Linked DNA regions of Homo sapiens. The protein of the gene in region 2 purifies or fractionates together with the protein of the main gene of each other region. This does not show direct contact. Each region holds a gene or a part of one and is shown on either strand. Other genes may lie near its edges.

Region 1 (3,500 bases), on a different chromosome or scaffold from region 2:
TGAGTAGCTGGGACTACAGGCACCTGCCCCCACAAGCGGCTAATTTTTTTTTTGTATTTTTTGTAGAGACGGGGTTTCACCATGTTAGCCAGGATGGTCTCGATCTCCTAACCTTGTGATCTGCCCGCCTTGGCCTCCTAAAGTGCTGGGATTACAGACGTGAGTCACTGCGCCCGGCCACTAACTATTTATAAGAGAAAATTTATTTATTTACAAGGAGGAAGCAAACTCAGGAGAATCAAAATGATCCTATGCAGGCTGGGTGCCATGGCTCACGCCTTAATTCCAAAACTTTGGGAGGATGAGGTAGGAAGATCATTTGAGGCCAGGAATGCAAAGCCAGCCTGGGCAATACAGCAAGACCCCATCTCTAAAATAATAATAATAATAATAATAATAAGCCAGGCATGGTAGCATATGCCTGTAGTCTCAACTATTTGGGAGACTGAAGCTGGAGGATCACCTGAGCCCAGGAGTTCGAGGTTGCAGTGAGTTATGATTGTACCACTGCACTCCAGCCTGGGCAACAGAATAAGATCTTGTCTCTTAAAAAAAAAAAAAAAAAAAAAAGAAGAAGAAAACTGCAATTGGAACTGTCTAATTTCAAAGCCCATTACTCCAGGAGTATCATATACAGCTTTCCCGAACATAACCCTAAAGTGGCCTGGTGAATTAGCTGGGTGATTTTAACAAGTACTACTAAGCCATCCATTGCCACTAAGAGACTCTATCCACTAAGAGGATCAAAATACTGTCCACTGCTCAACGCATCCCCATGCCCTGGACATGAAGAAACACCACCAACTGCCCGCTCTGACTCCCACTTCACAGATGCCATACTTCACTCCATCACTGCTTAGTTGCCACAATATTTCCTCAGCAGACAATAGCATTTTTTAAAGGAAGGCAGCATGATCTAACAATAAAAATGTAAAATCTAGATAACCACCACATTGAGCATGTCTATGAAATATGAAATGTTGCTTCAGCGCCAATTTCCTGGAAACACTAGACTGAAGAACCTGGGTGAGGCGCACACGTTCCTCACACTGACGAAGCAGCAGCTGTGCTCCATTTTAATCTAAGGACATAAATGAGATCAACTAAAGCTTAGCTAAAATTGTAATTGCCACAAAGAACTGATTTCTTTTTGTTTAAATAGGCTTAAGAGTCCAAGAAAGACAATTATTTTGCAGCAAAAGTCCCAAAATAAATCCATGTGATCTTCCAACCAAACATTCAGTATCTATTAGACATGGCTTCAAATCTCTACCAATAAAAACAAAAGGGGATCCGCTGCCGGCATTCTTGATCCTTCCACCATTCATGTTACCCAACTCAACAGCTACAAAGCCCAAAATTCAAGTTTTGCCAGTTATAAGAACATACAACAAGAAAATGTATACAGCTATGAGTCTTAATCAGCAAAACTGGCACAACTGCTGGTACTTACTCCAGAGGAGGCACCCCAGAGACTGAATTATAATCTTAATCAACATTTAACAATAGACTAATTAATAAAACTTCAGAACTTTTAAGCATGAGGTCAGGTGTTTTCTGGTCTCTGAATGAGAGCCTTCTATTAACAAAAAGCTTAACAATAAATTTCTAGCATTACAGAACATAAACTAGTAGGCCAGGTGCAGTGGCTCACACATGTAATCCCAACACTCTGGGAGGCAGAGGCAGGAGAACTGCTTGAGGTTAGGAGTTCAAGCCTAGCACTGGCAAGACCTCGTCTCAAAAAAAAAAAAAAAAAGTCGCAGCTACTTGGGAGGATCCCTTGACCCCAACATGTTGAGGATACAGTGAGCTGTGATTGCAACACTGCATTCCAGCCTGGGCGAGAGCGAGATCCCATCTCTAAAATATAAAGAATAAAGATAAAATAAGGACCATAAACCGGCCACAAAACATTTGGAATTACATCTGAATGGCTTCATAATAGTATTACCATTAATCAAATACCCAATATCTACCAAGTTATCTACATATACTACCCCATGTAATAGCCAATTTGACTTGTATAATCTAAATTTACTAAAAACCTTTCAAAGACTTTATGCTTTTGATCTGGCAACTGCATATCTAAGAATTCATCCTGAGAAAACAGAAATGGAGGCTACAGTCTTAAGTATATGGATGTTCATGGCATGTTACTTACAACTGCTTCCAATTTTCCCCAATATTATGCTCAACAAAAGGGAAATTGCTAAATTACAACACATCTATATGATGGTATATTATGTAGCCTTTAAAATTATCAATTTGGGGCCGGATGCGGTGGCTCACGCCTGTAATCCCAGCACTCTGGGAGGCCAAGGCAGGCAGATCATCCGAGGTCAGGAGTTTGAGACCAGCGTGGCCAACACAGTGAAACCCCCATCTCCAAAGAAAACAAAAAAATTAGTCATATGTCGTAGCATACACCTGTAGTCCCAGCTACTTAGGAGGCTGAGGTGGAAGGATCACTTGAGCCCAGGAGGTTGAGGCTACAGTGACCTGTGAGCGCACTACTGCCTAGGTGACAGAGCAAGACCCTGTCTCAAAAAAACAAACACACAGAAGATAAAATAGTGGTTTACAAACCACAAATCATGCTGTGTGCATTTCCAAGATCATACAATTACTGCTATTATTTGCCTTTCATTTGAGGGTCCTTGTATGTTGTGCCTACTTTTTCCATATGCCACCTACAGAGGTAAATTATCATGTCTCAAAAATATGAAGACATTAATTTAAAGTGAAGCTAAGTTCTGATAACTGTTTGAAGTTCACCCAGGCAAGTCTGCATCAAAGCATCAAACAGAGCCATGACTGGCTTCCAAGCCCACACTTCTATTAAGAGACAGAACATGCCCAGCTTTAATCACATGTACAAGCAGAGATGGCTTGTTCTAAATTTGTTATCACTGCATTGTAACTACTATCATCAGACTAGAGCTGTTAAAAATTAACACCTTTTCCAACTATATGCTTATGTGCAATTGACACTCAGGTGAAAGACTGAATTCTAAACCATTGATCACCAATGTAGGGCAGCCATGCAAGACAATTCTTTAACGGTGGAGGAAGAAACTGAAAATATTAGAATTTTCATTTCCATTTATTTTAGTTCGTCCTTCCTTAAGCTCCATTTTGTGTGTGTACAATGTTACTTTACAGATAACATATTATATATGCATATAATGCACGTTATGTGTATTATATGCACATGTGGCCATATATAATGTATACAACGTATCAGTTCATGTATATAATGTATTATATACATAACAGAAGCATAATCTGAAACATTTTACTGATAGGGATACATGAATGAAAGTTTGGACACCAGTGGTGTGGACACATAGTGGCAGGAAAAAATAGCCAGAACATAAAAATATATATATTTCCTTGAAGAAATGGAATCAGAAATGAGAGGTGAAGGAATGGGAATGGAGAATGTAAACAAGAGGAGGAGTTAAACAGTCTAGGAAAGGAAGGGAAGATGAGTAATA
Region 2 (3,500 bases):
ATTATGGACATGATTAAAGCTTGGTTCAGCAGAAACAAGTTTCTGTATCCTCAGCCGCAGGATTCAATGGCATTTTTATACTGATCGGGAATCTGTTGTTACAGGGAAGAGTGACCTTCGAGGATGTCACTGTGAACTTCACCCAGGGGGAGTGGCAGCGGCTGAATCCCGAACAGAGAAACTTGTACAGGGATGTGATGCTGGAGAATTACAGCAACCTTGTCTCTGTGGGTAAGGACGGCTTCCCGGGCAGGGGGACTCAAAACCTAAGGCGTGAAACACACAGACACCCCATGGCTGGCCAAATAGGGTTGGCACAGAGGTGCTCCTCACTTCGCATATGTTTTTGTAGAGCCGGGACTAGGGTGAGGCAAGTGAAGTGTACCAAGTGCTGTATTGAAGGAGCCCCCATTCTCAGGGTCGGCAAGTGCCGGGAGAATGAGTGAGGGCCTCTGTAAGTTTTGTGGGCTGGGTGCCCTGCCCTTCACCCTACTCCTGGTCTTGATTTTTGGAAAAGCTTTATCCTCCAAGAAGAAAAAGCATTTCTTTCTTTCCCTTCCTTCCCTCCCTCCCTCCCTCCCTCCCTCCCTGCCTCCTTCCCTTCCTCCCTTCCTACCTCCCTTCTTTCCTTCCTTCCTTCCTTCCTTCTTTCCTTCCTTCCTTCCTTCTTTCCTTCCTTCTTTCCTTCCTTCCTTCCTTCTTTCCTTCCTTCCTTCCTTCTTTCCTTCCTTCTTTCCTTCCTTCCTTCCTTCTTTCCTTCCTTCCTTCCTTCCTTCCTTCTTTCCTTCCTTCCTTCCTTCTTTCCTTCCTTCTTTCCTTCCTTCCTTCCTTCTTTCCTTCCTTCCTTCCTTCCTTCCTTCCTTTCTCCCTCCCTCCCTCTCTCCATTCCTCTCTCTTTCTTTATCTCCTTTCTCCTAACAGGGTCTGGCTGTGTCACCGAGGCTGGAGTGCAGTGGTGCAATCATAGCTCACTGTAGTATTTTTTTTTTTTGGAGACAGTCTCGCTCTGTCACCCAGGCTGGAGTGCAGTGGTGTGATCTCGGCTCACTGCAACCTCCGCCTCCCAGGTTCCAGTGATTTTCCTGCCTTAGCCTCCCGAGTAGCTGGGATTACAGACGTGCACCACCATGCCTGGCTAATTTTTGTATTTTTTGCACAGATGGGGTTTCTCCATGTTGGTGAGGCTAGTCTTGAACTCCTGACCTCAGATAACCGGCCCGCCTCAGCCTCCCAAAGTTCTGGTATTACAGGCATGAACCACCACGCCTGGCGTCACTGCAACATTGACCTGGGCTCAAGCCATCCTCCCACCTCAGCCTCCTGAATAGCTGGGACCACAGACGTGCACCACCACACGTGGCTTTGGTTTTGTAGAGACTGGGTCTTGCTATCTTCATGTTACATGTAACATGTTGGTCTCAAATTCCTGTGCTCTAGCAATTCTCCTATCTCGGCCTCCCAAAGTGCTGGGATTACAGGCATGAGCCGCCACACCCAGCCCAGAAAAAGCATTCTTTGTTTAGTTCGACTGCTCAGGTGCATTCCCTCAAACCATCCATCCACACAACTCCCCCCAACCAATGGCACATACCCACACACTGACATATAAATGCTCACACTCACACACAAATATTCACACAAGCATACGCAAGCGCTTATATACACTCATACACTTGCACAAACAACTCACACATCCACAAACACCAAGCCTTGCGGTATCTTCCATCACAGGACAAGGGGAAACCACCAAACCCGATGTGATCTTGAGGTTGGAACAAGGAAAGGAGCCATGGTTGGAGGAAGAGGAAGTGCTGGGAAGTGGCCGTGCAGGTAGGTGACCAGGAGAGCACTGTGGGTCAATGGTGCATGGAAGCCAATTCAGCTTTTCTAAATGAGGAAGTCGTTTGGCAGCCAGCTGTGACTTCCTGGGAGTGCTGGAAGAAATCTCCAGGTATTTTTCTCCACTCAGAAATTTCTTTACATTCTTATCTGGGTTTTCCTTTGCAGGCAAACTCTTTTTTTTTTCTTTTTTTTTTTTTTCTGGAAACGGAGTCTCTGTCGCCCAGGCTGGAGTGCAGTGGCGCGATCTGGGCTCACTGCAACCTCCGCCTCCCGAGTTCGAACGATTCTCCTGCCTCAGCCTCCCGAGTAGCTGGGATTACAGGCACTTGCCACCATGCCCGGCGAATTTTTTGTATTTTTAGTAGAGACAGGGTTTCGCCATGTTGGTCAGGCTGGTCTTGAACCCCCGACCTCAGGCAATCCACCCGCCTCAGCCTCCCAAAGTGCTAGGATTACAGGTGTGAGCCCCTGTGCCTGGCCTGGCAAACTCTCTTTCTTAATCTCCCTCTCCCTGGTATCCCTAGGCTCTCACCTGCTCCCTGTGCACTAGGTCTACGTTGCTCAGTCCTTTACAGACAGATATGTGATAGCTTCATGTAACATTAGCTCACATAGAACTCTAACAGAGCTTATATTAACTTTGGTTTCTCGTAGACATTAGGTTTGAAGCCAGAATAATCACCACAATAGATTGTTTATGGCATTTTATTTCAAGCATGTGAGTGGAACGTTTTACACAGGACATTTTTTTGTATTCCATTTTAGAAAAAAATGGGGACATTGGAGGGCAGATTTGGAAGCCAAAGGATGTGAAAGAGAGTCTCGCAAGAGAAGTCCCATCAATCAATAAGGAAACGCTGACTACGCAGAAAGGTGTAGAATGTGACGGATCTAAGAAAATACTTCCACTGGGCATAGATGATGTATCTTCCTTGCAACACTATGTACAAAATAATTCTCACGATGATAATGGATACAGAAAATTAGTTGGCAATAATCCATCCAAATTTGTAGGACAACAACTGAAATGTAATGCCTGTAGAAAGTTATTCAGTTCAAAGTCACGCCTTCAAAGTCACCTGAGGAGGCATGCCTGTCAAAAACCCTTTGAATGTCATAGCTGTGGAAGAGCATTCGGGGAGAAGTGGAAGCTTGATAAACATCAGAAAACTCACGCAGAGGAAAGGCCCTATAAATGTGAGAACTGTGGAAATGCCTACAAGCAGAAGTCAAATCTCTTTCAACATCAGAAAATGCATACTAAAGAGAAACCCTATCAGTGTAAGACATGTGGAAAAGCCTTTTCCTGGAAATCATCCTGCATTAATCATGAGAAAATTCATAATGCCAAGAAATCCTATCAGTGTAATGAATGTGAGAAATCCTTCAGGCAGAACTCAACCCTCATTCAACATAAAAAAGTTCACACTGGACAAAAACCCTTTCAATGTACGGACTGTGGAAAGGCTTTCATTTACAAGTCAGATCTTGTGAAACACCAGAGAATACACACGGGAGAGAAACCCTATAAATGTAGCATATGTGAGAAGGCCTTTTCCCAGAAATCCAATGTCATCGATCATGAGAAAATTCACACTGGGAAGAGAGCTTATGAGTGTGATCTATGTGGAAATACCTTTATCCAGAAGAAAAACCTC

The links. Proteins that work in one complex are often made in the same cells at the same time.
Region 1: the proteins of ZIM3 (region 2) and DDI2 purify together in Homo sapiens (co-immunoprecipitation; one large-scale study listed by IntAct). This does not show direct contact.

The regions. Positions count from the first base shown.
Region 1 is NC_000001.11:15,620,458-15,623,957, reverse strand, and holds part of DDI2 (protein DDI1 homolog 2), read right to left. Parts: intron 1-3,500. UniProt on the Homo sapiens protein: Aspartic protease that mediates the cleavage of NFE2L1/NRF1 at 'Leu-104', thereby promoting release of NFE2L1/NRF1 from the endoplasmic reticulum membrane.
Region 2 is NC_000019.10:57,135,203-57,138,702, reverse strand, and holds part of ZIM3 (zinc finger imprinted 3), read left to right. Parts: intron 1-104; coding exon 105-231; intron 232-1,731; coding exon 1,732-1,830; intron 1,831-2,607; coding exon 2,608-3,500. UniProt on the Homo sapiens protein: May be involved in transcriptional regulation.